Homo sapiens: one gene and its partners. The protein of the gene in region 1 interacts with the protein of each later gene in a pairwise test. Each region holds a gene or a part of one and is shown on either strand. Other genes may lie near its edges.

What was found.
Region 2: the proteins of ZNF575 (region 1) and SPRED2 interact in binary tests that used the Homo sapiens proteins (3 or more experiments, as listed by UniProt).
Region 3: the proteins of ZNF575 (region 1) and SNX33 interact in binary tests that used the Homo sapiens proteins (3 or more experiments, as listed by UniProt).
Region 4: the proteins of ZNF575 (region 1) and HAP1 interact in binary tests that used the Homo sapiens proteins (3 or more experiments, as listed by UniProt).

Annotation. Positions count from the first base shown.
Region 1 is NC_000019.10:43,528,965-43,536,813, forward strand, and holds ZNF575 (zinc finger protein 575), read left to right. Parts: upstream 1-4,223; 5' UTR 4,224-4,557; exon of another isoform or gene 4,558-4,830; 5' UTR 4,831-4,938; intron 4,939-5,372; 5' UTR 5,373-5,458; coding exon 5,459-5,537; intron 5,538-6,064; coding exon 6,065-6,723; 3' UTR 6,724-7,123; downstream 7,124-7,849. UniProt on the Homo sapiens protein: May be involved in transcriptional regulation.
Region 2 is NC_000002.12:65,331,308-65,339,273, forward strand, and holds part of SPRED2 (sprouty-related, EVH1 domain-containing protein 2), read right to left. Parts: intron 3,467-7,966; coding exon 3,298-3,466; intron 3,281-3,297; exon of another isoform or gene 2,812-3,280; coding exon of another isoform or gene 2,808-2,811; intron 745-2,807; coding exon 680-744; intron 1-679. UniProt on the Homo sapiens protein: Negatively regulates Ras signaling pathways and downstream activation of MAP kinases. Recruits and translocates NF1 to the cell membrane, thereby enabling NF1-dependent hydrolysis of active GTP-bound Ras to inactive GDP-bound Ras.
Region 3 is NC_000015.10:75,650,507-75,658,472, forward strand, and holds part of SNX33 (sorting nexin-33), read left to right. Parts: coding exon 1-67; intron 68-6,455; coding exon 6,456-6,709; 3' UTR 6,710-7,966. UniProt on the Homo sapiens protein: Plays a role in the reorganization of the cytoskeleton, endocytosis and cellular vesicle trafficking via its interactions with membranes, WASL, DNM1 and DNM2. Acts both during interphase and at the end of mitotic cell divisions.
Region 4 is NC_000017.11:41,724,644-41,732,073, reverse strand, and holds part of HAP1 (huntingtin-associated protein 1), read left to right. Parts: coding exon 1-137; intron 138-330; coding exon 331-436; intron 437-514; coding exon 515-581; intron 582-3,742; coding exon 3,743-3,873; intron 3,874-4,141; coding exon of another isoform or gene 4,142-4,237; coding exon 4,238-4,312; intron 4,313-4,641; coding exon of another isoform or gene 4,642-4,776; intron 4,777-4,929; coding exon 4,930-5,021; intron 5,022-6,176; coding exon 6,177-6,215; intron 6,216-6,919; coding exon 6,920-7,373; 3' UTR 7,374-7,430. UniProt on the Homo sapiens protein: Originally identified as neuronal protein that specifically associates with HTT/huntingtin and the binding is enhanced by an expanded polyglutamine repeat within HTT possibly affecting HAP1 interaction properties.

The DNA of each region.
Region 1 (7,849 bases):
GGGTGTGGTGGTGCACACCTGTTATCCCAGCTACTCAGGAGGCTGAGGCAGGAGAATTGCCTGAACTCGGGAGGTGGAGGTTGCAGTGAGCTGAGATCGTGCCACTGCATTCCAGCCTGGGTGATGGAGACTCCATCTCAAAAAAAAAAAAAAAAAAAAAAAAAAAGCATATGGCTGAGCTCATGCACAGGCACTTTGAGCACTTTGGGAGGCCTAGGTGGGCAGATCACTTGAGGTCAAGAGTTTGAGACAGCCTGGCCAACATGGTAAAACCCCATCTCTACTGAAAAAAATAAAATAAAATACAAAAAAATTATCTGGGCGTGGTGGGGCACGCCTGTAGACCCAGCTACTTGGGAAGCTGAGGCATGAGAATCATTTGAACCCAAGAGGCAGAGGTTGCAGAGTTTGCAGTGATCCAAGATTGCACCTCTGCAACATAGCAAAACCCTGTCTGGGCAACAGAGCGAGAGTGTCTAAAAAAAAAAGGCCAGGTGCGGTGGCTCACGCCTGTAATCCCAGCACTTTGGGAGGCCAAGGCGGGTGGATCACGAGGTCAGGAGATTGAGACCATCCTGGCTAACACGGTGAAACCCCGTCTCTACTCAAAAAAAATACAAAAAATTAGCCGGGCATGGTGGCGGATGCCTGTAGTCCCAGCTACTCTCGAGGCTGAGGCAGAAGAATGGCGTGAACCCGGGAGGCGGAGCTTGCAGTGAGCCGGGATCGTGCCACTGCACTCCAGCCTGGACGACAGAGCGAGACTCCGTCTCAAAAAAAAAAAAAATTCCAGGCATGAGGTCTCATGCATGCCTGACTCAAGCTAGACAAAGCTGAGGACCCAGAGGTGACTCAGTCTGGCTGGTAGGCGAGAGAGGTAGGGAAAGCAGGTCTGAGACACAGGGAGGTGTAGGGATTTGGGGAACTCAGGGGAGGGAGGAGCCAGGGAAAGGAAGACCCTCAGGCACTCCTTACTGAGAGGGTCCCCCAAATAAGAACTTCTCGCCCCTGGCACCCTTTCCCGTTGTTTTTGCAGAATTTCTAGACCATTTATGTGTCCTTTGAAGACACACCCTAGGCAGGGTTTATAGGCTCAGCTGTGAGATGTTCTAAGAGTTAGACTTGGCTTCACCCTTCTCAGGTGTAGGACCTTGGGCTGAAAACTTATCTTCTTCTGGGTTCCAGTTTTCTTATCTACAAAATGAGGTTGAAAATAGTTCAATAGCCTGACATAGCACAGGCTCTCAATGGGAACTGCCCATCATTATTTTGTCACTATCCTTGACTCCTTCCTACCCTTGCCACCTCCACCCACTTCCAGGCCCTGCTGAGTTAAACTCTCTCTCTTTTTTTTTTTTTTTTTTTTTGAGATGGAGTCTTGCTCTGTTGCCCAGGCTAGAGTGCGGTGGTGCAATCTCAGCTCACTGCAACCTCCGCCTCCTGGGTTCCAGAGATTCTTCTGCCCCAGCCTCCCAAGTAGCTGGGATTACAGGTGCACACCACCACACCCAGCTAATTTTTGTAGTTTTAGTAAAGATGGGGTTTCACCATGTTGGCCAGGCTGGTCTGGAACTCCTGACCCCAAGTAATCCACCTGCCTCAGCCTCCCAAAGTGCTGGGATTACAGGGCCGAGCCACCGTGCCCAGCCAGATTTAACCTATCTTAACCAGGCCACTTTTCTGTTATCACACCCTCTGCCCCATTCAAGGGGCAGCAAAGCATAAATGCAAATTGCCTGGACTGCAGGGCCAGGCTGAGGGATTCAAATCCTGGCTCTGATACTTCCTGGCTGGGATGACCTTCCCCTCCACACTTCATTTTCCTCCTCTGTACAAGGATGATAGTAGCACCTCCTCTTAAAACATTGCTATGGGGATTAAATAAATTAATGCACATAAGGACAGTTTCCAGTGTATAATAAGTGCTAGCAATTAATACTGTAATTAATATATAACAATACCCTCACTGGTCTTCTGGCTTCTACTCTGCCTTCTTAAAATCATGGTTCTTGAAAATAGCTGTGGCCCTAGAGGTTGGGCGCGGTGGCTCACACCTGAAATCCCAGCACCATGGGAGGCCGAAGTGGGCGGATCACCTGAGGTCAGGAGTTTGAGACCAGCCTGGCCAACATGGTGAAACTCCATCTTTACCAAAAATACAAAAAAAAAAAAAAAAATTAGCCAGGCGTGGTGACGGGCACCTGTAATCCCAGCTACTCAGGACGTTGAAGCAGGAGAATCACTTGAACCTGGGAGGTGGAGGTTACAGTGGGCTGATATCTCGCCACTGCACACCAGCTTGGGTGACAGAGCAAGACTCCGTGCAAAAAAAGAAAGAGGTGGGCACAGTGGCTCACCCCTGTAATCCCAGCACTTTGGGAGGCCAAGACGGGTGGATCACGAGGTCAGGAGATCGAGACCAGCCTGGCCAACATGGTGAAACCCTGTCTCTACTAAAAATACAAAAATTAGCTGGGTGTTGTGGTGAACACCTGTAATCCCAGCTACTTGGGAGGCTGAAGCAGGAGAATCGCTTGAACTCGGGAGGCAGAGGTTGCAGTGAGCCAAGATTGCGCCACTGCACTCCAGCCTGGGGGACACAGCGAGATTCCATCTCAAAAAAAAGAGAGAGAGAGAGACCGAAGTGTCACTTCAAACTAATACAATGTGTGGAGCTCATTTAGATCTTAAGTCAAGCAAATCAAGTGTAATAAAAAGATATTTATGAGATATGATGTTTGACATTTAGCTTCAGAATCATTTGGGAAGAGTGGATGGGGGGTAAATCAAACAATACTGGTCATGAGTGAATAATTATTTTAAAAACTTTTTTTTTAAAGATACGGGGTATCACTCTGTTGCGCAGGCTGGAATGCAGTAACACAATCATAGCTCATTGCAGACATGAACTCCTGGGTGAGTCCCCACTCCCTACCCCCGTGAAATAGCTGGGACTACAGGCTGCCATTAAGCCAGACTTTTTTTTTTTTTTTTTTTTTTTTTTTAAGATGGGGAGGTGTCTCACTATGTTGCCTAGGCTGGGATTTTTGTTTGTTTGGGTTTTTGGTTTTTTTGTTTTTTTGAGACGGAGTCTCACTCTGTTGCCCAGGCTGGAGTGCAGTGGCTTGATCTTGGCTCACTGCAACCTCTGCCTCCCAGGTTCAAGCCATCCTCCCACCTCAGCCTCCGGAGTAGCTGAGATTACAAGCGTGTGCCACCATGCCTGACTAATTTTTGTATTTTTAGTAGAGACGGGTTTTCACCATGTTGGCCAGGCTGGTCTCGAACTCCTGACGTCAGGTGATCCGTCCACCTCCGCCTCCCAAAGTGCTGGGATTACAGGCGTGAGCCACCGTGCCTAGCCCCCGTCTAGTTTGGAAATCCTGGGCTCAAGTGATTCGCCCGCCTCTGCCTCCCAGAGTGCTGGGATTACAGGCATGAGACAGGGAGCCCGGCCTAGGCACTTTCTAGTCTAAACACTTTCCATTGATTATCATATTTAATCCTAAAAACGCTCCATTTTATAGATGAGGAAACAGGCCTAGAAAGAGAGCTAGAAAGGGTCACACGGCTAGAAAGTGGCACAGCCGTATTCCAAACCAGTTACCCAGGCAATCTGGCTCCAGAGTCCAAATAACCCCGCCAAACTCCCAGGGATCGCCAGACCTTGCGGGTTATCGGACTGAGACCCACCCATGCAGAGGACTTTTATGGGCATTTCCTGGTCCTTTCTGCACCAGGCAGGAAGGTGCACCGCCACTGCTCGGGAAGAATGCTAAGCTGCATGCCACCCCAGGCCTGGCACCAAGAGCATGGGCCAGGGCACCTCGGGACCACCCAGGCTTCCGAGGGGGAAGGTAGATGGGTGCGTGGCTGAGAATCTTGAATCACCCAATAGCGAGGTGTGCCAAGGCGCTGTGCAAATAACGTGCCTTTTATTGGGCACTGGCTCTCTTTGAGCCCGGAGTCCCGCCCCCGCCCTCTCTCGAAGAACTGGCCAGACTTTTTGCAAACGCCTTGAAGGGTAGAATTAGCAGCGAGCTCTTGAAACTGCCTCTGGAGATGGAACTCAGCGGAATTCTCGAAAAGAAGAGGGACATTAAAAAGACGGGTGCATGCACTGATTTCCAAGCGCAGTTTGTCCATGTTAGTCTTGTACATGCTTGACTCCAGTCAGCCACCGTAGGCCCCGCCACCGGCGGTGCACTTTCTGTCGATACGGTAGCTTCGCGCTTGCTCACGAACTTGCCTGCCTGGCTGGCGCACCCAGCCCCTCCTTCCATTCCTTCTTCCCCCTCTCTGCAGCCTCTGCCAGCCCGCACTGCGCATGCTTTCTGACGCCCCCTTTGGTCCAGCGTGGGAGGAGGGGATGGAAATGAGGTTGGGCTAAGCAGCTTGCGCGCGCTCCCTTGCCTGCCCTCCCCCGACGCCGGACGCGCGCCGGGCGGGGCAGCTCCGCTGGTCCGAGGGCAGTGCAGCAGCGGCGACAGCGGCTGCGGCCGTGGCCGTGGCGGGAGGAGCCGGAAGCCCCGCCCCCGGGGAGGGGCCGTCCTGCAGGTGAGGGCGCAGGGGTTCGGGCGCGGATATTGGCTTGCAGGCTGAATGCCAGAATCACCCCGAGGGAGATCGGTTGTGGTCCGGACGCCTAGATTCTGGAGATGCTGGAGGGACTGTGCATTGGTGCCAGAGCCTCGGGAGGGTGCATCGGTGCCTGAATGTCTGATTCCGAGGGGTGCATTGAATCCTTTACGCTTGGGACTCTGAGGGAAAAGTCCATTAGGGGTCTCTGGACCGCGACGCATGCCAGGTTCCTTCCGTATCTTCCTCCAGGTCCCCCCTCTATCCTCCACGGCCCCATCCAAGCCAGGGATGAAATTTAACGGCAAGAAGGGCGCAGTTGACGCGGCGTCAATGAACTGAGACTAAGTCAAAAGCCGGGTAAAGCTAGGTCTTCGACGTGAAGCCCCGCCCACTGTGCCCATAGGCCCCTCCCCTGGGACGGTGATGAAAGACCTGCCCACTCCGCTCGAAGGCCCCCGCCCCCTGGGTCTAGTTTCAGAACAAGACTTTTTTTGTACAGCCCCGCCCATTCCAGGACTGCAGGGTCTGGTGGGGAAGGTCCCGCCCACTCTGCGCATAGGCCCCGCCGGCTCCGCGCTTAAGACGGCCGCTGAGTTAGTTGTGGAGACTCCGCCCACTCTGCTGAAAGACTCCAACCCTGGGTTTAGATAGCGAAGGGACTGCCTCTGGCTTGAATTTGCATAGCCCCGCTCACTGTGCTCTTAGGCTCCGCCTCCCCGCTAAGCCTGCCCCCGCCTTAGCATCCCATACTTGCAGACCTTGCTCCTAAACAGTGTGATCCCTCATTTTAGGCCCTCCAACCCTATCCCCATCAGCCTGGTCATCACCGGCGTCACCCCCGCCCCGCGCCCTGCCCCTAGGTTCCTGTGCCAGCAAGATGCTGGAGCGAGGCGCGGAGTCCGCGGCCGGGGCTACCGATCCTAGTCCCACTGGCAAGGAACCAGTGACCAAAGAAGGTGAGAGTGCCCCGCCTGTGAGTAGGGAGCATTCTCCAGGAACGGGGGCCAAAATAATCACATTCTGGGGGAATCTCAGGGTGAAAATTTGAGGGCCCTAGGGTGATGACTATTTGGGATCCCCAAAACTGCCACATTCTGGGAAATCCTCCCATTTGGCTCAGAGAGAGCCTCAGTGACCATTTGCTAAGGCTCAGGAAATGAGCCTTACAGAAGGGACGGGTCAGGGATGACATGCGGGATGTCAGGGTGATCACTGGGAAGATACTAGAAACGGATACCTTGGTAGCTTTGAGGAAGCCTTAGTAGCTTTGGGGATCCAGGAAAGTAACCCTTTGGAGTCCCTCAGAATGACGCCTGGGGGGAGGGGGGAGCAGAAACATGCAATTTGGGGAGTCTCAATGTGATGCTTGAGGTGCCCAGGTACACTTGGAGGAGCCCCACGAATATCAAAGTCGTGGCGGAGCCTGGCCTAGGCCCAGGGCGTTGGCTGCTTCCTGGAGCCCACCAGCCCTCCTGTCCCCCAGCTCCCCACCAGGGCCCACCGCAGAAGCCCAGCCAGTCAGCTCCAGGGCCCACCGCGTCCGCGGGCTCGCCTCCCCGGCCTCGCCGGCGGCCCCCGCCCCAGCGCCCGCACCGCTGCCCCGACTGTGACAAGGCCTTCTCGTACCCGTCCAAGCTGGCCACGCACCGCTTAGCACACGGAGGCGCCCGACCCCACCCATGCCCAGACTGCCCCAAGGCCTTCTCCTACCCCTCCAAGCTGGCAGCCCACCGCCTCACGCACAGCGGCGCCCGCCCGCACCCGTGCCCACACTGCCCGAAGTCCTTTGGCCACCGCTCCAAGCTGGCGGCTCACCTCTGGACCCACGCACCCACCCGCCCCTACCCGTGCCCCGACTGCCCCAAGTCCTTCTGCTACCCTTCCAAGCTGGCGGCCCACCGCCACACGCACCACGCCACCGACGCCCGCCCCTATCCTTGCCCGCATTGCCCCAAGGCTTTCTCATTTCCCTCCAAGCTGGCCGCCCATCGCCTATGTCACGACCCCCCAACCGCGCCCGGCAGCCAGGCGACTGCCTGGCACCGATGCTCCAGCTGCGGCCAGGCCTTTGGCCAGAGACGCTTACTGCTCCTTCATCAACGCAGCCACCACCAGGTGGAGCACAAGGGGGAGAGAGACTGAGCCCTCCCTTGGCTCACTGTCCCCTTCTGCCGCCAGCCCTAGCCAGTAAGAGGTGGGATTTCTAAGACCGACTGTATGAGCTCGCCTCTTCCAGATAGCTGGCAGAGGGCAGGGCAAGGGATTGGCCATTTATACTGGGCTCGAGCTCAGAAGCCCGAGGAACTCTTTGCTCCCCTGCTTTGGGGAGATCTCAAACCATGGACGTGGAGCTGTGGTTTGACAGCGCTGGCTCTGCTTCTCCCCACACACTTACATGGCAAAGGTAAAAAGTCTGCTACTATCGTGGGTTGATGAGGATTGTGGGCAAACAGGCTCTCTTGTTAAAAGTTTAAACTGGTGTCTCCACTTTGGCCATATGACGGTATCTAAGAAATTGAAAATACATACATGCTTGTCTCAACTCTTCCACTTGTAGGAATTTATTCTATAAACTCATGAATGTGAAAAAAAAGCATAGTGTTAAGGGTGTTCACTGCAGTGCGACTGTTGTGGCCAAAGACTGGAAGCAACTCAAGTGCCCAAGAACAGGGGACCGACTATTGAATTACAGCCATGGAATGGAATAGGTAGCCATAGGAAAAAAGGAAGCGCTATATGTACTGATGTGGAAAAATCTCCGATACACTAGGTGATAAGAGCAAGAACAAAGGGTATATACCACTGACCATTTAAAGACATTCAAAAGCCCAAGCTTCAGGCTGGGTGTGGTGGTTCACGCCTATAATGCCAGCACTTTGGTTAGCTTGAGGCCAGTTCAAGAGCAGTCTGGGCAACATAGCGAGACACCATCTCTACCAAAAAAAAAAAAAAAGCTGGCTGTGGTGGCATGTACCTTAGTCCCAGCTACTTGGGAGACTGAGGAAGGTGGATCACTTGAGCTGGCAGGTCAAGGCTGCCATGAGCTGTGATGGTGCCACTGCCTTCCAGTCTGGGTGACAGAGCGAGACCCCATCTCAAAAAGAAAAACAAAAAAAGCCCAAGATTCAGACCCATCCCTGACCCACTTCTTACAAGTTGCCAGGCCTTGGACAAGCTTTGTCACTCCTCTGGATTCAGATGCCTTTGTTGTAAAATGGGTGGGTTATAAGGCATTTGTAAGGGGCAAGCAACACCTCAGGCAAAGTCA
Region 2 (7,966 bases), on another chromosome or scaffold:
TGCTCTAAGCACACAGCAGGCAGGCAATGAACTATTTGTTAATTAACTTCTAGAAGCACAGGATTTAACTGAAGCAGCAAGCTGAGAAATCATTTTGTTTCCAGTTACATCCCATTAACTCAAGCTGTGTCAAAACAGCTAAAAACCCTTTCCTGCGTTAGCACACTTGGGCCTAACCTTAAGTCAGCCTGCAGGCCTTTCTTATCAGATGTTTAATTACTCATCAGGAAAGATACTGCTGGCTTTCCCCCCTGATGCCAGGGAGGGAAGCGTGTTCACAGAAGACTCCAAATAGGGCAAGCGATTGTCCTGGCTTGCCTGGGATTGAGGTGTTTCCCAGGACTAGGGACATTTTGTGCTAAAACCAGGACAGACTTGGGCAAACCAGGGCAGCTGGTCATCCTAAATCTGAGCAAAGACTTTAAGACAACCTTGGACAGACCTGGGAGAGCTGACACTGCTGTGCTGTGTGGCAGATGTGCAGTGTTGCTCACTGCAGCGTGAGCAACAGGGACAAACCCAGCCTGAGAAAAATTGTAGTAAGACAGAGATCGCTCTGATGCCATCCAAACAGCAACAGCAAACACTGCATTGCAAAGTGTGCCTCATGCCCTTAAACAAAACCTTTCTCTGATTATTCAACAACTAATCTGGAAAGCAAAGGACAAAGGAAACTTACTGTAAAAACGTCATCATCGCCAAGCTCAGCTTCATTATGGATGGTGGAAGATGACGTTGTTGAACCTAAAAAGACAAAAATGTAATAAAAAGTGTTTCCCAAGAGGATACATCAAATCCAACCGTTTAAAAAAGTATATTTTAATAAAACCACATTCCATTCTTTTTGCATGTGAATTACCAACAGAAACAAGTTACCTGGGAATTGAGTGCTTTTAATTTACTCTTCTTTAATTGATTCTTGCCAGGATGCTCCCTAAATTAACTTTGCCTGCTGTTGTTCCCAATTAATCTCTCAAACTTCTGCACTCGCTGCTAGAGAATAAGCACACAGAAAGGCACTGTGGAGGAGGTGAGGGGAGAGGCTGCCCACTCCTCTGAGGGACATGCATCGAGCCCAGCCTCTGTAGTGACCTTGAGGTCCCAGCCGTGTAGTGGGAAAAGCACTGGACGGGGAACCCCTAAGTGAGACCTGCCACAATCTACTGTGTAAACTGGATTTAGCTCCTCTGGTCTTTTCACCTACCAATGAAGGCATTTTAGCTCAATAGCTTGTATGGTTGTGTCCAGTTCTGAATTCAGATGTTGTATTTCTAAATCCCAAATTGTGGGCTCCCTTCTAAGGGGACACCTGTGCAAGGGGGTTTCCTCTTGCAATACCAAGGCATCAGTGAGTTTGCTTTGTTTTTCCAAGTCAAAATTACAGCTCTTGTTAGAAAACCCTCCTTATTCCATCATGGAACCAATTGGATTTTAGAGTTCAATGTAATTACTTGTTCACCTTTTTCTTCATTCTGGTATGCGAATCAGGTACAACTGCCCTACTTCCCCCCACCACCCTGAATAGCAGACAATAATGCATGGATCAACTTAATTGGCCAAAAGAAAGACATATTTAAAATTGCATCAGTGACAGATATACCAAAAGGGAAATTTATTCTCTATCTTTTCCTTTTCTTGGTTAGATCTTTTAAAATATGCATTTAGAAAATATTTTGCTGGCCAGACGCAGTGGCTCACGCCTGCAATCCGAGCACTTTGGGAGGCTGAGGCCGGCAGATCACGAGGTCAGGAGTTCAAGACCAGCCTGGCCAACATAGTGAAACCCTGTCTCTACTAAAAATACAAAAATTAGCTGGGTGTGATGGCGGGCGCCTGTAATCCTAGCTACTGGGGAGGCTGAGGCATGAGAATCGCTTGAACCTGGGAGACGGAGGTTGCAGTGAGCCGAGATGGCACCACTGCACTCCAGCCTGGGCTGGAGACTCCATCTCAAAAAAAAAAAAAAAAGAAAAAGAAAATATTTTGCTATTACATGAAATTGAAATGAAAACAATTGCTCAGAAAGGATGAGAAATACTTAAATTTCCAACGAGAGACTGCAGGAGAAAAAACAACAGTCCCATAGTATGTTCTGTGCAACTCCTACTGGTCTTTCGGGAGCTGTCTCTACTCTGAATTACTCCAATCAACCAATGTTCTAGGAAAACTGGTGGAAAAAAAAGCTAGATAGTATGTATATAGAGAAAAAAATTACAAGTAGGAGAATGAAATGTTGTGCAATTAAGTACATGGACACAATGCGAACGTCTATCAATAATATAGGAGCTGTTTTTTCTCTAAACATGAAAAAGCTGTGTTTAATAACATTTTAAATATTTGCCACTTATGTCAGAACTATGATTTGAACACTGGTTTTTATTATCTCTTTTTGGCTATCTCATACTTGTTTATGGATTCATGTTCTAGCTAGTCTTGTCTTACTACTGATTATAATGTTAAGTAATTTGTCTTTTAAGACTTGCTTTTTTTCCTCTTCCCCCAAATCCACAATGAAGAAAATGACTTCAGAACACTTTTATTTCTTAAGCAAATGAAACATACATCCTTTTGTGATTAATTTCCCCAAGATCTGAATTTGGTATTAACATGCCTTGCTTGATATTTCTTTCTTCACAGGGCCCTGTCTATGGCTTCTTTAACCCTCTGATTTGATACCTGGATGTGCTGCAGTGGAGAATTTTTGTGTTTGCATCTGTGGACTCTAGTCAAGCCCACCATGAGAACTGACTGCCCAAGGGCCCTCCAGGCCACGATCAGATGTAACACAATGCCTACTACTCACTTACCCATAGACCAAGGCCTAAACCGAACCAGGGCTCCAGAGGTCACAGATCCCTTTCCTTTTCAGTGGCAGCTGTACACCCTGGGCCTCTGATTACAGGAGGACAGTGGGTAGGCCAGGAGCCTTCTGGGCCCGCCAGAATCCATTCTCTACTTCTGAGCCAAGACAGACCAGACCAAAGCCATTTCAATAGTCAGGACAAGGTGAAAGCAGTCAAAAATACATGCACATGGAAATCCAGAACCTGCCTGTTTTTTCACAGCAGAGTCTAAAAATCAATTGGGATTACTCCTTACTCTGAAACCCATCTCCTTTTCCCTGAATTGTCACTTTAATTACTCTCCTTGGAAATTCCAAAAGTTTTGGCATCTACTGACCTGGTCCCAAACCCTCCCGCAAATAAACCACAAATAAATGATGGCAGACTATTGGAATTAAAAATAATTTGGAACATTTCCATAGTCCCACTAAGAATGCAGCGACAAGTTCAATACCTTCTATAAGGTCTTCGATTGCTTTCCTTACTCCCCTGTCAAAGGCTCGGGCATCAGCAGGGCTTTGGAAAGTAAGTCCAAACTTCCTATTATCGACCTTCCAGTGATGAAACGTTGGATTGGCTTTGGTGTAGACCAAGTCCTTTCTTACATAGCATTCCAATACCACCTGAAGGATGGAAACACACAGGCTGGTTACTAGTGGAACAGCCATGATGATGTCTGGTTACAGAAGTCTAATTAGGAACCATCACTGGTGGCAACTACCAAAACCCCTCTAACCCCTGCCTTCACATATCTGTGAGTCTCTCCAATGGGAAAGGAGGCTTTGCTTGGCTGCTGACCATCCGATCTTCGCTGCTCCCCACTGTCCTGGTTGTACCCCTTCACTACACTCTCTTCATCACGGTTATTCCTCTTCCTCCTGGCTGCAGGGCACTAAGTTGATGCTCAGGTCTTGGGTCTTGGCTGTATTTCAGATTACTGCTTTTATGTTGGGGTTTTTATATTGATGGTCATCTAGCTTCCCTCCCCCGAGGCTCCAAATTCCAAAAGTTGAAAAATTAACTTTACTCTAAAATTTCTCCTCTCCCAACTTCTGGCAATACCAATCCCTCTCCACTCTTTTTCTCTGGCTCATCATCTCTGTGGTCATCTTTGCCTCCTCTGCCTATCTCCTGTATTATTAATCACCAGGTCCATTTCATTTTTCCTTCAACAGCTTTTATATCAACCCCATTTCAGTTGCTGCCACCCTGATCTGGGTCTCTATTAACTTTATGTTTGGATTAATAGAACAATATTCAAGTTTCTAGCAATTTAATCTCAGAACTGGCTTTTACTGAGTTGTAATGAGTAGATTGATCTTTTTATCTCTAAGATGGAAAGAACACCAATGTTATCAATGAGAACAAGAACATGCTCTGAAAACACTGAATAAATGAGAAACCTAATTCACATTCATTGTCCAGTATATCTTCCCTGTCAAGTTTTATATGTACTCCAATTCTCCTTCTTGTCATCTTCACAATTTAGTACCTGATTTCAAACTATTCTTTAACAGTTTCATGTGTATTAGTCTTGTTCCCCTAACTAGACTACAAAAAGTCAAGATTATAAAATAACCCCGTCTAGCACAGTTGATAGAGATACTAGAATTTATTTAATATTATAGAAAAGAAACATTGCAATAATTTGAACGTAAACTTCATTCTTTATTCATTAAAAAACTCAGACTACTTACAATATTTATTCCTATGGCTTCATTACAAACACCATAATGATTTTGCTAAGTTTTAATAGCCCAATCTTGTTCTGGCAAAGATCTGCATTTACCGCAATGTGATCTTATTAATTTAGACTAAATGAAGGACAAGAGTAAAGACCTGCCTAAATTAGTATACAGATAAATTAGAGAATATCTTTAAATAAGTATAAATTCTAAGAATAGATCAAAGCAAAAAGAAGGAGGCCAGTACAGTGGCTCATGCCTGTAATCCCAGCACTTTTGGGGGCTGAGGCAAGAGGATCACTTGAGCCCAGGAGTTTGAGACCAGCCTGGGCAACATGGCAGGACCCTGTCTCTAACTAAAATACAAAAATTAGCTGGGTGTGGTGGCACACATCTGTAGTCCCAGCTACTCAGGAGATTGAGGTGGGAGGAACGCTTGAGCCTGGGAGGCTGAGGCTGCAGTGAGCTGAGAAGGTGCACCACTACACTCCAGCCCAGGTGACAGAGTGAGACTCTGTCTCAACAAAAGGAAAAAACAAACGAGAAATAAATTAAGGGTTGTCTAATGAATGTTCCCTAACTTAATAAAAAAATGAGAATAATATTCAAATTGGTATATCAAATAGTAGTCCCAAGCAGTTAACTTTATTACATTGTATTGAGATCGGACAACAGTTCCCTCCCATAATTCTATTTATGATTAAATTGCTTATTATAGCCATTTCCCCCTAAGAATAGCACAATGATTAAATGTCAGCCCAGCCCCATTCCACATTGGGGAAATCCAAATAATCAAGAATTTAACAAATGTTATCTATTTTAGAATTTAATAGTCTCAATTCAAAGTCTCAAAATAAACTTTTTGTATTCTAAAAACAAAGACTCCTAGTTTCTCCATATTTTGGGGGTGAAAAAATTAGTCTTTGGTTGATATTTTCCAACTTTGAAATTATTCCAAAGGTACATTTTCTTAGAAAAGTTTAAGTAAAATGGCCGGGCGCGGTGGCTCACGCCTGTAATACCAGCCCTTTGGGAGGCCGAGGCGGGCGGATCATGAGGTCAGGAGATCGAGACCATCGTGGCTAACACGGTGAAACCTCATCTCTACTAAAAATACAAAAAATTAGCCGGGCATGGTGGCGGGCACCTGTAGTCCCAGCTACTAGGGAGGCTGAGGCAGGAGAATAGCGTGAACCCGGGAGGCGGAGCTTGCAGTGGGCCGAGATCGTGCCACTGCAGTCCAGCCTGGGCGAAAGAGCAAGACTCTGTCTCAAAAAAAAAATAAAGTTTGAGTAAAATAAGTTCAGCCACCTAAATTAAGTGAGGGGGGAAATCAGATACCATCTCTTTATGTCCTCTAAAGCAAAATAGTATCATATGTATCTAAGTTTAAAGACAAAAATGAAAAGGTTTTAGATGCTTTAATCTTCCCAACAGATATAAACTCTCTGGTGAAGTTTTGGCACGCACACAATTAGACACTAACTTAAAACTTGAGAAAGGCTTTAAAAAATACCCGTTTAAATAAGATGCATACGGAGAAAAAAAGTGATTATGTTCTTGTTCGAGACTTGAAAAAAAAAACTACACAAGAAATACATGTTGTGGGAGATTTAAGTATTAGCTGAAGACATGAGGACTCCATTCCTACTCATCTCTCCCCTCCACCGTCAACATCCCTCTCTGTCGAGTTCCCCACTGTCAGTAGAGCGGGCACAATCCCAGTTTCCATTTTGTGGCTTCTTTACATATACACAGGTAAGTTTCTGTGTAAGGGCAACTGTGTTTAAATGTAGCCACACCTATAAGTTGTTTTTAACTTGCTTTTTATTTTCCTTAAAAATATGTCATAGAGATACAGGAAGGTAAAATAATTGTTTAATTCATCTGTATGGATGTATTAGATTTATTCAACCATTCTCCATACTAACGGACATTTATGTCAGTAAGAATTGGTCACCTTGAAGGCAATGCTGCAATTTACATCCTTATCTATATTTGAAGTATAAATTAGAATTCTAGACAGCTTCCTGGTACTTAAAGACTTTTCTAATGAGTCAGTGGCAATATTAAAAAATGTAGTTTTTTTGATATTAATGAGTCAGTGGCGATATTAAGAAATGTAGTTTTTTTATATTAATGAGTTAGTGGCAATACTAAGAAATGTAGTTTTTTGATATTATAGAATAAAATGTATCAACATTTGGAAGATCTGCTTAACTCAGTGGAGCACTATTTTTCAGGTGACCAGTGCATGATGTTACAAAATCAGGGATGAGTAAGAGATCTATTGAAAGTGAAAGAGTCCCTCTCCCTCTCCCGTCTCCCTCTCCCGTCTCCCGTCTCCCTCTCCCTCTCCCGTCTCCCTCTCCCTCTCCCGTCTCCCTCTCCCTCTCCCGTCTCCCTCTCCCGTCTCCCTCTCCCTCTCCCGTCTCCCTCTCCCTCTCCCGTCTCCCTCTCCCTCTCCCGTCTCCCTCTCCCTCTCCTTTCCACGGTCTCCCTCTCATGCCGGGCCAAAGCTGGACTGTACTGCTGCCATCTCGGCTCGCTGCAGCCTCCCTGCCTGATTCTCCTGCCTCAGCCTGCCGAGTGCCTGCGATTGCAGGCGCGCGCCGCCACGCCTGACTGGTTTTTGTGTTTTTTTGGTGGGGACGGGGTTTCGCTGTGTTGGCCGGACTGGTCTCCAGCTCCTAGCCGCGAGTGATCCGCCAGCCTCGGCCTCCCGAGGTGCCGGGATTGCAGACGGAGTCTCATTCACTCAGTGCTCAATGGTGCCCAGGCTGGAGTGCAGTGGCGTGATCTCGGCTCGCTACGGCCTCCACCTCCCAGCCGCCTGCCTTGGCCCCCCAAAGTGCGGAGATTGCAGCCTCTGCCCGGCCGCCACCCCGTCTGGGAAGTGAGGAGCGTCTCTGCCTGGCTGCCCATCGTCTGGGATGTGAGGAGCCCCTCTGCCTGGCTGCCCAGTCTGGAAAGTGAGGAGCGTCTCTGCCCGGCCGCCATCCCACCTGGGAAGTGAGGAGCGCCTCCTCCCGGCCGCCATCCCATCTAGGAAGTGAGGAGCGTCTCTGCCCGGCAGCCCATCGTCTGAGATGTGGGGAGCGCCTCTGCCCCGCCGCCCCGTCCGGGAGGTGAGGGGCGCCTCTGCCCGGCGGCCCCTACTGGGAAGTGAGGAGCCCCTCTGGCCGGCCAGCCGCCCCGTCCGGGAGGGAGGTGGGGGGCTCAGCCCCCCGCCGGGCCAGCCGCTCCGTCCGGGAGGGAGGTTGGGCGGGGGGTCAGCGCCCCCTCCCGGCCAGCCGCCCGGTCCAGGAGCTGAGGGGCGCCTCTGCCCGGCCGCCCCTACTGGGAGGTGGGGAGCCCCTCTGCCCAGCCACCACCCCGTCTGGGAGGTGTGCCCAACAGCTCATTGAGAATGGGCCATGATGACGATGGCGGTTTTCT
Region 3 (7,966 bases), on another chromosome or scaffold:
CTGGACACACTGTCTCTCTACCAGGGCCTGCTCTCCAACTTCCCTGACATCATCCATCTACAAAAAGGTAAGGCCCAGTGCAGGCAGGAAACTCGTCCTGAGTCTGGCTCTCTGCTGGGCCCTGGGGAGATGGGGATGGCCTGGATAGAATGGAGCAACTTGTCTTTATTTCTCTGTCTCAATCATTCATTTAACAAATGTGTTGGGCTGGGCACGGTGGCTTACGCTTGTAATCTCAGCACTTTGGGAGGTTGAAGTAGGAGGATCACTTGGGCCCAGGAGGTTGAGACTACAGTGAGCCCGATTGTGCCACTGCACTCCAGCCTGGGTGACAGAGTGAGACCCTGTCTCTAAAACAAACAAACAAACAAACAAACAAACAAATGTGTTGAATATCAACTCTGTGTCTGTGGCAAATGTGCTTCTAGGTGCAGGGATATTGTTGTGCACAGGCCCGGTCTCTGTCCTCATGGAGCTTGATATTTACCTTCTTGTCAGTTCATTCATTTTCTCTGTTTGCATCTCGTTTACCCATCATGCATGGTGTCATGCTGGGTTCTGAGAACACATAGATGACCAGGCCCCAGGCCTTGCCCTTGAGGAGCCGGTAGGCCCTTGGGAGACACAGACCCAACCCAGATAACAAGAGCTCAGAGTGGGGGCCTGTCTTGTGCTCCTTGCAAGTTAACCTCCCCACCTTTGCAGCTTTGGAAGCTACTCTCACCACTGTGTATTCTCTTTATGAGCGTCTTGTCTGTGTGCAGGAAGATCCCTGTCCCCATTTTGCAGATGAAGGAGCTAGTGTCCACAGAAGAGTGGTTGCACAGCCTGTGGCCCGGCTGGGACTGTCCCTTCCTCCTGCCACCTCCCCAAGGACACGTCCATGTTGGCCACTTCCCAAGCCTAGCCATGTTTTCAGTTCTCATGACCCCCTCTGTGGGGGAGGGACAGGATGGGCCTCTGCCTGTTACTGCTGGGGCTGTCCATGAACTGCCGGGGAAATGACTCATCCTGGGTCACACAGGGGCACTCTGGCTGGGCCAGGGGTGCAGAATCAGGGGTCCAGGGCACTGTCCACATGGCCTATCCAACTCCTGCTTCCCAAGCCTGGCTTCTCTTCTTGCCTGAGGAGAGAGCCAGTGGCTGCCCCAGCAGGTGCCTGAGTCCTGGGCACAGCTGGGAGGGCAGATGTCAGGAGAGAGGTGTGATCCTCCCTGGGGCTGCTTGGTAACTCGTCTGCAGGGCGTGGAGCTGGCTCCCTGGCCCTTGGGCCCTGAGGTTAGACCTGGCTTGGTGGGGAGTTTGACTCTGGGTGGGGCCAGGGGGCAGACCTCTGCACTGAGCCTGGGGAACAGGAAACATGTCACCCACCACCACCAGGGAGGGCCTGGGGTAAGCTGGCCTTGCTTTCCTTTACCAAGAGGTTGACTTCTATAACTTCTCCAGCTCCCAGCCTCCTTTCTCCCCTTGCTATATCCTCTTCCTCTTCCTTTCTTTCTGTTTTTTTTTTTTTTTCTCTCATCTCTACCTTTCTTCCTCCTCCTCTGAACTCCAGGAAACACAAACCTGAGTGCTAGTCTTGGCTCTGCCCCTAGATTGCTGTGCGTCCCCGGGGAGTGCCTTTGCCCCTCTGGGCCTTAGTTTCCTGATCTGTAAAACAAGGGAATGGGGTCCCAGTGAGCCATCAGGCCTTCAAGGGAGTGGGTGGGAAGGGACTCCTGGGGAGGGTATGGCTCAGAAACAGAATGACACCTTAGCTCTGGCTCTGAGCACTGGGGCAGGAGTAGGGCAGGGGAGGTGGCCAGGCCTGCTGGGGGCCCACTGGGGCAGGTGTCTCCCTGAGCACAAGTGGGAAGGCTGGTTCAACCAGCTCCTTAGATGGCTTGTTCCTGTGCAGGCAGCAGGAGGGGGAATGCAATGATTAAACAGATGCTCCCATGCAGTGGCTGGGGACCCCCCACCCAGAGCAGAGCTGAGGACATTAGGGCAGCCCCACACCTAGGAAGGACACCAGGGCCTCCCAGGCTGGGGGGAAGCCAGACCAGCCTTTCTGACCCTGGGCAGAGAGACAGAGCTGAGATAGGCCATTTCTGAGTTTCTACTTGAGGTGTTTCTAAGAGTCAGAGGCCACTGTCCTCTGTGCTGGTGCATTTGACCTGAAACAGAGGCCAGCCCACTGCCTTCCCTCCCCGGGAGGACCCCTCCCAATGGGCCAAGCCCTCTCTGGCTTACTCTAAGTTCTGGGCTCTGCACTGCTCCTCCCAGGCCTGTGGTGTGGGGCAAGTTAGGGAGGGGGTACTGAGACAGAACTGGACAGGCTTTGGGGACCACAGCCCAATGGGAGTGATAAGGAGGGGGTCCTAATGCTGGCCTTAGGGGTGGAGCCCTTCTCAAAGAAAAGAGAAGAACAGTTGGGTCCTGGGCCCCCAGGATTCTGTCCAGCCTGTCTGGACATCTGAATGGGTGGTGAGTGTGTGGGAGGAAGGACAGTGGAGGCCTAGGTGGGAGTCAGGAGACCAGGATTTGGACAAACTTTGCATCTGACATGACTTTGGGAGAGATTTCTCCCCTCAGTCTCTAGGTGAGTAAAATGGGACCCGAGGGTCTTCATTTCCTTAGGAGGGCTCCATGTCATGTGAAACTTACATTAAACAAATTTGTATGCTTTTCAGAAAAATAATAAAATGAAATAAAATGGGACATAAACCCTGGCTGGAGCTGAGAGGAGCCTGGTCCTCCCACGGGCCTAGTCCCTGTAGCCCAATCCAGGGGTCTCCTAAGAGAAGGGTAACCATATAATTAACCAGGGCAGTTTGGGGCATAAAAGGGGGCCCTAGCAATAGTGATCCCGGGACAACAGGGGAAAGTAACTGTCCAGGGCAAGCTGGGACGTATGGACCCCCAACTTGACAGCCAGCAAGAGCGGGGCTGGTCCTAAGGCTCACGACAGGTCAGGAGGGCGATGTGGTCACTTCCGTTTTACAGACGAGGTGCAGCGATGCAGATGAGCCTCAGAGCAGGAGCTGGAGTCCAGTGTGTCTGGCTCCGCAGCCCAGGCTGTTTCCACTGTGCCCTCCCAGATGGGGGAGGGGATCCCCAGGGATGGAGAGCTGAGCCAGAAGGCGAAAGAGGAGGGAGGAAGGCTTGGGTGCTCCTTCACTGGTCCTGTGGGCTAGAGAGAGGCCCAGGACCACAGAGCTTCCATGGAGGGGCCATAGGGACAGCGTGGCCAAGGCAAAGTGGCGACTGTAGGGACAAGTTCTTGCCTGGGGGATGGGTGGGTTCAGCCTCTGGGTTCTGAGCCATCATCTAGCCTTCCCTCTACCGCTCATCCTGTAATCTCAGCACTTTGGGAGGCCGAAGTGGGCGGATCACAGGAGTTCGACACCAGCCTGGCTAACATAGTGAAACCCTGTCTCTACTAAAAATACAAAAAAATAGCCAGGCATGGTGGCAGGTGCCTGTAATCCCAGCTACTTGGAAGGCTGAGGCAGAAGAATTGCTTGAACCCAGCAGGCGGAGGTTGCAGTGAGCCGAGATCAAGCCACTGCACTCCAGCTTGGGCAGCAGAACAAGACTCCATCTCAAATTAAAAAAAAAAAAAAAAAAGAAAAGAAAAGCAGTTTTCAAGCCATAACATGTAGCATCTGGAGCTTCTATTGTATCTCAGGTGCGCTCCTTTGAACTGTGTACATATTAGTTCAGTTAAGCCTCAACTATACTATAGGGCAGGTACTATTATTATCCCATTTTACAGATGTGGAAACTCCTTAAAGCACTATACCGTGTGAGAGGTTGTCAACAGCATCACATCTAGTGCAACCTGTCCCACTGGGCAGTGGGGAGACCTGGAGCCCAGGCAAGAGCAGTGGCTTGCTGGAGAGGATACAGCTAGGACTAGGACTCAGACCTCCTGCTCCCTCCTGCCCCCAACCTGGGGTGGATGTTAACTGTCTCCAAGAGGCAGGGGCAAGATGGATTGAGGTGGGAGCTTAGGGAATATCCCTGGGACTTGCAGCTGGTGGGCTCCAACCCTCCTTTCTGCATTTTTGGGACCCAGCCTGTAAGAGGAGTGCTGAGGCAGGAGGTCCCCCTGGGTCCTCAGCTCTCAGGTTAAGTCTTAAGTAGAATGTCGGGGGGATGCTGGACAGGCCTGAGCCCTGACTCCCAGCCTGTGGGGTGGGGTGCATTAGCATTAGCTGGTCCTGGCCCCAGAGCTGAGTCACAGGGTGGAGGGGTAACGGAGAACAGGGTGGGGCCTCTGTTTCCCCCCGACCTCTGCAGCCTTTGCTCCCCATCCCTGGCCTCCTGCCTGTCTGTGGATACCTAACCATTGCAATGGGTTCATTCTTACTCTTTGGGCTCCTCATCAGCAAAAGAGGCCTTTCCTTCCTCTAAGGCCATGGACAGGAAAAGTCTATAGATGCACTTCCACTGTGCCAACTTTCTCGGCAGGTGGAATCCAGGCTAGTTCAGTATCTCCTCTTTAGCTAGGTTCCTTCTGCGGAAGTTTAACTCCAGTTTCTTCACCCTGCTGTTTTCTACCTTTCTTCTTACGGTTCTTCCTACTCCTTGGGACCTTCTTGAATCCCTGTGTCCAACGTCTGGGGGCCCCACACATATGCCTGAAGGACCTGGCATGGGCTCCCTGCAGCAGAAGTGGTGTCCGACCCCCAGCTGTGGAGGACCAGGCAGGAAAGAGGCTGGGAGTCCTGGGCAAGTTCCTGCCCCTCAGGGCCTTGGCCTCCTCTGTACAGTAGTAGGATGGAGGTGGAATCGAGGGTTGGACACCTGATCTTTTGGGCCTTTCTAGCTCTGAAGTCTCTTACTGGGTCCTATCCTGGGCCTTGGGGTGATCCCCCTTCTGCTGCCCAGGGCTGGGCTGTTGAGATGGTGCAGGAGGTGGTCCAGGGAAGGTGGCAGAAGGACTGAGTGGGCTGGGAGCTGGGGAATGCAGATTTCTTTTGGGCGCTGTGTGAGCAGCCCTGGAGACTCTCTGAACTTGAGTCTGTTTGCCTGAAATGCTACTATTAGCCGATTAGCCATGCACTTATCAACTAACATGGATGTTGCCCCTTCTAAAGGCATCCAGAGTTATTCCCAGCATGTAGAGCCCTGGGCCTGATATACAGTAAGTGCTCAATGAATGCATTTAGAATGCACTGGACAATTTGAGCCAGGGAGTGAAGAGAATATTATCTAGACAGCCCTCAAGAGCCCTCCTTAAAGGAGAAGTGGGAAAGCATGGGTATTGAGCATGCTATCTGTGTGTAGTGGGTGCGTTTGCAGTGCTCAGGGGTGTGCTGTCCTCTATGCCAACCCTTCCCTGCTCCTAATCTTCTTTGTATGGTGGATTCTCTGCAGCCCTCGGCGACTGAGTGCCAGGCACAGGCAAACTTCCTTCTCTTCCCAGCAACTGTCCCCACTGGCTTAAAGGCAGAATTCGTCAAGTCCCTTTTAATTCAGAACTGAAATTCATTCACCAGCTGCTTGTTCATTCATTCAGATTCTTCTAAATTGGGTCCTCTGCCCAGGTTCATCTCCACCCCCCATCTGTCACCTGGTTATTACACAACCTCCTCGAGTTCCCTGGGGGCTGGGATGAGGAGGGAACAGGGCGTGCATGTCTGGGAGATACACCAGGTGGCCTTTGAAGAGTTGTTTTAGAATCAGCAGTGTGATGGGGGTGGGGGTGGGGAGCCAGGGCACAGGTGACATGGGAGAGACATTCTGTCAGGGGAACTGGGAGAGGCTCCAGTGTAGAAGTGGCACCTGATCGGGGCCATGAATTATGAATAGGAATCCAGGGGGCAGAGGTAGGAAGGTAGGAAAGAGCCAGGTGAGTTTGACGAACATGGGGGTCAGTGTGGAATGCGTGCAGGGGCCAACTCCCAGAGGTGAGGGCCCCCCAGGCCAGGCAGATTGGTGTGGACCTTGATCTGTAGGTAGTGGAGAGCTAGGAAAGGTGCCCAGCTTGGGATACCTCTTTAGATGCTGCAGAGAACCTGTCAGAGGCTGGGGCGGAGGGCAGGGAGACGTGGCGGGGCTGTTGTAGCAGTCCAGTGAGGGACAGGGTTGAATCAGTTCAGCAGGCCTATATCAGGATCTGCTGTGGGCCAGGCCTTGTTCTGGGTACCAGAGACACAGAGAGGTTGAGGACAGGCTCTATCCTCATTGAATTCATAGTCCATCAAGCAGGGCTGTGACTGGTCACATGTGGGCTACTGGTGGCACTGCACATTTGGAGAGAAGATGATGTGCTTGGTTTAGGAGGTGCTGAGGGTGATGGCTTGGGTAACATCCTGGCAGAGACACCCAGGTGGCTGGAATGTGGGTCTGGGGCTCAGGAATGACGTCCGAGTTGAGCTGATGAGGGTGCTGTCTGCCCTCAAGGGTACAGGGAGCACATGGAGATCAGAGCCCTCACACGCTGTCCTCTGCTCTGCCTATGCCAGGCGCCTTCGCCAAGGTGAAGGAGAGCCAACGCATGAGTGACGAGGGCCGCATGGTGCAGGACGAGGCAGACGGCATTCGCAGGCGCTGCCGCGTGGTGGGTTTCGCCCTGCAGGCCGAGATGAACCACTTCCACCAGCGCCGTGAGCTCGACTTCAAGCACATGATGCAGAACTACTTGCGCCAGCAGATCCTCTTCTACCAGCGGGTGGGCCAGCAGCTGGAGAAGACCCTGCGCATGTATGACAACCTCTGACCGCGTGTGCCTGGGCCCCCTCCTTCCCCTGGGCCTGGTCACTGCAGTGTACCCCACTTTCCCGACCTCCCTATACCAGCAGTGACTGGGGGAGGGGTCAGCGGTGGGGGAGATAAGCGGCCTGTCCTGCCTCCTGGGAGAAGGAGCTTTCAAGGAGTCATGGGTGCCCCTGGGAAATTCCCCACTCCTTAGAAGTGGGGCACAGCAGGGGTGAGAATAGAGTCAGGAGCCCTCGAGGCCAAGGCCTGGGCTGCCGGTCAGTCAGTGAAGGTCAGGCCAGGGTCTCAGCCTCCCCTAGAGCCTATTTTGCTTGCTCACCTGGCCACTGCTGCCTTATCCATTCAGCAGACACCGAGGCCTGCTGCACCCTTGGGTCGGATGCTGGGCACCCAGGGCTGTGACATGCCTGCTCTTCAGGAGTCCTCAGTGAAGGTCGGGGTCAGACACAGACAGAGTCAATGCAGTATGACTGATGTTTAAGTGAGGGATTTCTGGAAGCTCATAGAAGGGACCACAGCATTCCACTGGTCAGGGAAGACTCCATAGAGTAGGCAACATTTGGGCAGTGTTTTGAAGAATGACAAGGGCCTGCCAGACAGTACATGGGGGAGAAGGACTTTCAGGGGAGAGGAACAGCATGGGCAAAGTTATGGAGGCATGCAAACATCTCCCTCTTCTCTCCCTTACTTTCCAAGCAAGTTAGGTACGCTTTCCATGGGGATTCTGGCCTGTGTGGTAGGAAGGGATCTCCCTTGCTCCCATGTTGCTGGCTGTCCGTACATCACCCTGTCCCCTGCAGGAGGGGGCTACAGGCCATCTCCCTCCTGTAGGCCTCTGACTCCCCTCCACTTTTGGGCCCTCAGCTTATCTCGGGCAGGGGACCATTGCAGCATCCTCCCCTCCTCGGACTCAAGGTGCTGAGGTATAAGCCCTGGGCCCCAGATCCCTGGTGACACCTTCCTGGAGAAGACTCTCAAAAGTGACTGTATATTTGAGTTCACCAGCAATAACTCCCCACACTCGAAGCAGGTCCAAACCCAGGATCTCAGGGTCCTTGGGCTCTGTGGCACTGTCTTCCCAAGATCCTTCCTGTTGCACAATGGGAAACCTAAGAGGAAAAAGACAGGGGCCTGCTTGCCCAGCCATGCGAGGGATTCCATGCCCACCTGCCCTCTGTCTGCCTCGCTGGAATGTGGGCCCCTGCTCCCCGTCAGGTTGTGCTGTCTCTGACCTATGTTTACATCCCCGAGGGGTTTC
Region 4 (7,430 bases), on another chromosome or scaffold:
CAGCTCTACTCAGATTCTGATGAGGAGGATGAGGATGAAGAAGAGGAGGAGGAAGAAAAGGAGGCAGAAGAGGAACAGGAAGAAGAAGAAGCAGAGGAAGACCTGCAGTGTGCTCATCCCTGTGATGCCCCTAAGCTGTGAGTTCCTGCCTTTGCACCTGCAAGTCCTTTCTCTGAGCCTCAATTTCCTCATTTGTTAAGAGGGACACAGGTGATGTGCTTGCTGGCAGGGTTGCTGGAACTAATTGAGAACACTGCCCTTAGCCCTGGTGGGCTGGGAACTGGGAAGCCCCACTCCCTGCACCCTGACTCCCATTCCTCCCTCCCCTAGGATTTCGCAGGAGGCATTGCTGCACCAGCACCACTGCCCACAGCTGGAAGCCTTGCAGGAGAAGCTGAGGCTGCTGGAGGAGGAGAATCATCAGCTGAGAGAAGAGGTGAGAATGGGGGAGGAGGGCGTCCCTGCTAGCAGGGGGTGTTGACTTCCCTGTCCCTTCCTCTTTGTCTCCCTCCAGGCCTCTCAACTCGACACTCTTGAGGATGAGGAACAGATGCTCATTCTGGAGTGTGTGGAGCAGTTTTGTACGTAATGTTGTCACTCGGGGTGGGGGGTTGTCCCAAGGAGCAGAGAAAAGAACTCAAGATGTGGAGTATGGAGATCCAAGTTCAAGTCCCAGATCTGGCACTCCTAGCTGTGTGAACTTGGATACATTCCTTGACCTCTCTGAACCTTTGTCTTTAGAATGGGGATTAATTTTCTCAGCCCCACTGATCTCTCCAGGGTTTATGAAGATTAAGAGTGTCAACAGCTGAGGAAGTACTTTGTGCAAACTATAAAGAGCTATACAGAAATTGTGGGTCTCAGGCCAGGCACGGTGGCTCATGCCTGTAATCCCAACAGTTTGGGAGGCTGAGGCCGGCGGATCACCTGAGGTCAGGAGTTTGAGACCAGCCTAACCAACTTAGAGAAACCCTATCTCTACTAAAAATACAAAAATTAGCCAGATGCAGTGGCACAAGCCTGTAGTCCCAGCTCCTTGGGAGGCTGAGGTGGGAGAATTGCTTGAACCTGGGAGACAGAGTTTGCAGTGAGCCTAGATCACGCCACTGCACCCCAGCCTGGGCGACAGAGCAAGACTCCATCTCAAAAAAAAAAAAAGGTGGGTCTCCTCCAAGCCTGTCTTCTCTTATTTGGGGCAGGCAAGAGGGAGCCATGAGCTGCCAGAGACCAGGCACCCAGGGCTGGGACAGTTCAGAGTCATGCACGGGGCAGTGGCTGTGCCTGGCATCGTCCTAGGCACTGTGTGTTTATGAAGATGAGTGAGGAGCAGTGTTTGTGCCTGAGGAGTTCAAGTGTAGCTGGTGAGATGCAAACGCAAAGTGGCAACAGCTGAACTCCTGCTGTTCCCTTTACCCCAGAACTGACCTTCCTTCCTGCTGGGTTCTGCAACTCCCTGAATGGCCCCACTGGTCCCCAGGCTACTGGAGTAGGAACCAGTCCCCAAGCTCTGTTGCTTTTACCTCCTAGGAATGGCTTAAGTCTTTTTCCCCCTCCCCACTCGGGCTGCCTCTAGCCCAAGATACCTCTTAACTGGTCGCACTGCCTCTACTCGCGCCCTACCAGGAACTTCTGCACACAGCCTTAATGAGTTTTCTAAAACCAAACCTGGCCAGGTGCAGGGGCTCCCACCTGTGGTCCCAGCTACTCAGGAGGCTGAGGTGGGAGGATTGCTTGAGCCTGTGAATTCTGGGCTGTAGTACACTATGCCGACAGGGTCAGTATGGTCCAGGGAGTGGAGTACCACTGGGTTGCCTGAGGAGGGGTGAACTGGCTCAGGTCAGAAACAGAGCAGGTCAAAACTCCCATGCTGATCAGTAATAGGATCGCACCTATGAATAGCCACTGTACTCCAGCCCCAGCCTGGGAACCTGGCAAGACCTCATTTTTTCTTTCTTTCTTTCTTTTCTTTTCTTTTCTTTTCTTTTCTTTTCTTTTCTTTCTTTTCTTTCTTTTCTTCCTTCTCTCTCTCTCTCTCTCTCTCTTTCTTTCTTTTTTTTTTTGAGATGGAGTACAGTGTTGCAGTCTTGGCTCACTGCAACCCCTGCCTCCTGGGTTCAAGTGATTCTCCTGCCTCAGCTTCCTGAGTAGCTGGGACTACTGGTGTGTGCCATCACGCCTGGCAAATTTTTTTTTTTTTTTTTTTTTGACGGAGTCTCACTGTCGCCCAGCTAGAGCAATGTCATGATCTCAGCTCACTGCAACCTCCGCCTCCCAGGTTCAAGTGATTCTCCTGCCTCAGCCTCCTGAGTAGCTGGGATTACAGGCCTGTGCTACCGTGCCCAGCTAATTTTTGTATTTTTAGTAGAGATGGGGTTTCACCATGTTGGCCAGGTTGGTCTTGAATTCCTGACCTCAAGTGATCCTCCCGCCTTGGCCTCCCGCAGTGCTAGGATTACAGGTGTGAGCCACCACGCCCGGCCAAGACCGCATTTCCTTTTTTTTTTTTTTTTTTTTTTTTTTTTTTGAGAAGGAGGCTCCCTCTGTAACCCAGGCTGGAGTGCAGTGGTGTGGTCTTTGCTCACTGCAACCTCCACCTCCCGAGTTTAAGCGATTCTCCTGCCTCAGCCTCCCGAGTAGCTGGGATTACAGGCATGCGCCACCATGCACAGCTAATTTTGGTATTTTTAGTAGAGATGGGGTTTCACCATGTTGGGCAAGCTGGTGTTGAAATCCTGACCTCAAGCGATCCATCCCCCTCAGCCTCCCAAAGCGCTGAGATTACAGGCATGAGCCACTGTGCCTGTCCCAAGACCTCATTTCTTAAAAAACAAGTAGCCGGGTGCAGTGGCTCACCCCTGTAATCCCAGCACTTTGGGAGGCAGAGGCAGGTGGATCTCTTGAGGTCAGGAGTTTGAGACCAGCCTGGCCAACATGGTGAAACCCCGTCTCTACTAAAAATACAAAAATTAACTGGGCGTGGTGGCGCATGCCTGTAATCCCAAGTACTCGGGAGGCTGAGGCAGGAAAATCGCTTGGACTCGGGCGGCAGTTACAGTGAGCCAAGATTGCACTATTGCACTCCTGCCTGGACGACAGAGATTCGGTCTCAAATAAATAAATAAATAAACCAACAAACCCAAGTCTGACCACGTCATTACTGTGCCTAAAACTCCCAAATAGCTTTCCATTGGCCAAAGGATAAACCCCACCCCCTTGCCCACTACTGTGGTCTGGCCTGTGTGCACTGTTCTGGGCCCTCCCCGTCCCAGTGTCTTATGATGGCCTCTGGGCCTTTCCAGTCAGCTTGGACCCATGTTTTTCCTTCTTTGCCTGGGTGAGCTTCACTTGCCCTGTGGTCTTAGCTTAGTGGTTCCTTTTTCCAGGAATCCTTCCTTACCTTGCAGGTCGGGTTGGGTGCTGTAGCTGTGATGCCCCTGCCCTGTACACCCTTGACATTTGCCCATCATGGCCTGTATGATGTGTGACTGTGGTCTGTCTCCCCACCAACTTTACCTCAGTGTGGCGGCTGGGTCTTACTGACCACTCACCCTGGTGCCCTGCTCAGTATCAGTCAATGAACATTTCTTGAATGGAAGACCTGAGTGAGGAATGCAAAGCCCTGCAGGACCCACTGGCACAGCGCAGCAGCCGAGGGTGGGGGAGACAGAGGCATCTGGGAGGGCCAGAGCTGGTCCCTGAAGGCCAGGGGAGCCAGGGCTGACCTGTCCTCTGCCCTCCCCAGCGGAGGCCAGCCAACAGATGGCTGAGCTGTCGGAGGTGCTGGTGCTCAGGCTGGAAAACTATGAACGGCAGCAGCAGGAGGTCGCTCGGCTGCAGGCCCAGGTGCTGAAGCTGCAGCAGCGCTGCCGGATGGTGAGTCGGGTGTGTGTGGAACCCTCTTGTCGTGGCCCCATGGGACCCTAGCTTCCTTCTTCCTGCCTCCACTCGGCTCCACCAGGCCTGAGGTCCCTTTCTGTGTCAGAGTCAGAGACCTCAGAGAGCCCCTTATCTTGACCCCTTGTTATCTTGAGGAGACCAAGGCCCAGAGAGGGTCCTGGAGTCTTCTAGGAACCAGGCTGCGTGACTCCCCTGCCTTCTTTGCCCTCCTTCCGTGTGACTTGTCATTTCATGGGCTGCCAAGGACTCACTGATGTGCCTGGGAAGACTTGCTGGAAGCAGGGGGTGCCCTGAGTGGGTAGGCCTCAGATGGGGGTTCACTGGTTTTGGGTCCTTCCAGTATGGGGCTGAGACTGAAAAGTTGCAGAAGCAGCTGGCTTCGGAGAAGGAAATCCAGATGCAGCTCCAGGAAGAGGTGAGTCTCGCTGCCGGCTTCTGCCCCCACCCTGGAGAGCCGCTGGCCCAGAGTGGGGACCCCAGGCCCTTGGCAGCTACCTGACTCTGGAGAGGACTAGCAGGAACTGAGTCTTGTCCGTTTCCACCCCCTCCATGCCTGGCACAGCCCAGCAGGTGACAGTTCCATCAAGGTCTGAGTGGTGTGGAGTGCAGGGACCTGCCCTGGGTCCCCCACATGACACTTGGAGTCCAGAACCTGGGCCTCTGGCCTCAGCCTGAGAGCAGATAGGCAGGAGTGCTGGACTGGGTGTGCCTGGGTCCCAGCAGAGCGTGTGGGTGGGTTCCCAGCTGCAGGACCTGCGGGAGAAGTACATGGATTGTGGGGGCATGCTGATTGAGATGCAGGAGGAGGTGAAGACCCTCCGCCAGCAACCCCCAGTGTCCACTGGGTCTGCCACCCATTACCCATACAGCGTGCCTCTGGTGAGGACCCTCCCCTGGCTGCCCACTTTCCTACGTCTGTGCCTGTGTCTCAGCCTTGGTGGCTGATTGAGATCCCAGTTCCCTTCTGTGCCTGAGCCTATGGGTGGGGGTTCTGTGGGGGTCCTCTGGTAACGTCTGTTCTCTCCACCATAGGAGACTCTTCCTGGTTTCCAGGAGACGCTGGCTGAGGAGCTCAGAACGTCTCTAAGGAGGATGATCTCAGACCCTGTGTATTTTATGGAGAGGTGCGTGGCTGGGGCCCTCCCTTGCCCCATAGGCCATGGCCTTTCCTGTAGTGGGGAGGGGGTTTGCCCTCACACTCTGACCTTCCACGCTTCCCTATACCCGCCTCGTTCACTGCATCAGCCCCTCCACTCATTGCTTCTCTATGAATATGGACCCATCACTTCCCCCTGAGGTATTTTTTTTTTTTTTGAGATGGAGTCTTGCTCTGTCACCCAAGCTGGAGTGCAATGGTATGATCTTGGCTCACTGCAACCTCTGCCTCCCAGGTTCAAGCAATTCTCCTGCTTCAGCCTTCCGAGTAGCTGGGATTACAGGCATGTGCCATCACGCCCGGCTACTTTTTGTATTTTTAGTAGAGACACAGTTTCACCCTGTTGGCCAGGCTGGTCTCAAGCTCCTGACCTCAGGTGATCTGCCCGCCTCAGCCTCCCAAAGTGCTGGGATTACAGGCGTGAGCCATCATGCCCAGCCTGAGGTTTTTTTTTTTTTTTGAGACGAGTCTCACTCTGTCACCTGGACTGGAGTGCAGTGGCGAGATCTTGGCTCACTGCAACCTCCATCTCCTGGGTTCAAGCGAGTCTCCTGCCTCAGCCTTCCAAGTAGTTGGGACTACAGGCACGAGCCTGGCTAATTTTTTTTTTGTTTTTTGAGATGGAGTCTTGTTTTGTTGTCCAGGTTGGCGTGATCTCGGCTTACTGCAACCTCCGCCTCCTGGGTTCAAGCGATTCTCCTACCTCAGCCTCCTGAGTAGCTGGGACTACAGGTGGCCATCACCACGCCCGGCTAATTTTTGTATTTTTAGTAGAGATGGGCCAGTAGAGATGTTGGCCAGGCTAGTCTTGAACTCCTGACCTTGTGATCCACCCGCCTGGGCCTCTCAAAGTGTTGGGATTATAGGCGTGAGCCACTGCACCTGGCCAAGCCCAGCTAATTTTTGTAGTTTTAGTAGAGACGGGGTTTTACCATGTTGGCTAGGCTGGTCTTGAACTCCTGACCTCAGGTGACCTGCCCACCTCGGCCTCCCAAAGTGCTGGGATTACAGGCGTGAGCCACTGCTCATGGCCACTACCTAAGGTTCTTCAGCTTGACCAAGCCCCAGGGACTGCAGTTTCGGCTTCCATTGTCTCATAATGAAGGTCCTTTTCTCTTTGAAGGAATTATGAGATGCCCAGAGGGGACACATCCAGCCTAAGGTAAGCCTGCCAGGGGCTCCCCTACAACCTGCCCTCAGCTTTCAGCAGCCAGACAGCCCACCTGCCTCTGGTTCTGCCACCCTGCAACTCCGGAGAAGGCCCTGCTATCTCGGCTGGCTGAACTGAGAACTGTTCTGGGAAGGAGCTGCCCCACTTTTCCTTCAAATCTTGCCCCCTGGGTGGCCGTCTGATTCCAGGCAGCTCTGAGTGGGGACTGAAGCTTTCTTTTCAACTGACTATGGGCTGAGAGGTGACAGGCACTGGCTTAGGAGCTGGGAACACCTGGGACTAAGGCCCAGCGTGGTCCCTTTCCTGACTGTGTGTCCTTGGGCAAGTCATTTGACCTGTCTGAGCCTGTCTAGAATGGATTTGTTCCTATGGCAAGTAGCTGTGGGGTGGGCTATGAAGGTTAAATCATGCAGGAGGGAGGCAGAAGTGGGTGTTAACCCTGTTGGTGTATTCCGTGCAGGGTCAGGGACATAAAAGAAGATGGGGCCTATGCAGTGTTGGTGACCATTCTTCCTCCCTCCCACCAGGGGGATGGGCTGGGTATTTGAAGCCTTGGAGCTGGTACCTAGCTCCCCTCTCCCCTGGCTGGGACAGAACCAGGAGGAACCATCAGGATCTGTGTGGAGACGGGTGGGGGTGGGCCTGGGGGGTTGGACTTTCCAGCCCCTCAAAAGATGTCGCTATCTCCCGCCCAGGTATGATTTTCGCTACAGTGAGGATCGAGAGCAGGTGCGGGGGTTTGAGGCTGAGGAAGGGTTGATGCTGGCAGCGGATATCATGCGGGGGGAAGATTTCACGCCTGCGGAGGAGTTCGTGCCCCAGGAGGAGCTGGGGGCTGCCAAGAAGGTGCCGGCTGAGGAAGGGGTGATGGAAGAGGCAGAGCTGGTGTCAGAGGAGACCGAGGGCTGGGAGGAGGTGGAACTGGAGCTGGATGAGGCAACGCGGATGAACGTGGTGACATCAGCCCTGGAGGCCAGCGGCTTGGGCCCTTCACACCTGGACATGAATTATGTCCTCCAGCAGCTGGCCAACTGGCAAGATGCCCATTACAGGCGGCAGCTGAGGTGGAAGATGCTCCAGAAAGGTGAGTGCCCCCACGGGGCCCTCCCTGCCGCCAGCCGGACAAGCTGCAGATCGTCGTGCCGATGAAAAGAGAGGGTGGATAAGCTCCCCGAGTGCTCACCTGCCCCAGCCTGGCTCTACCTG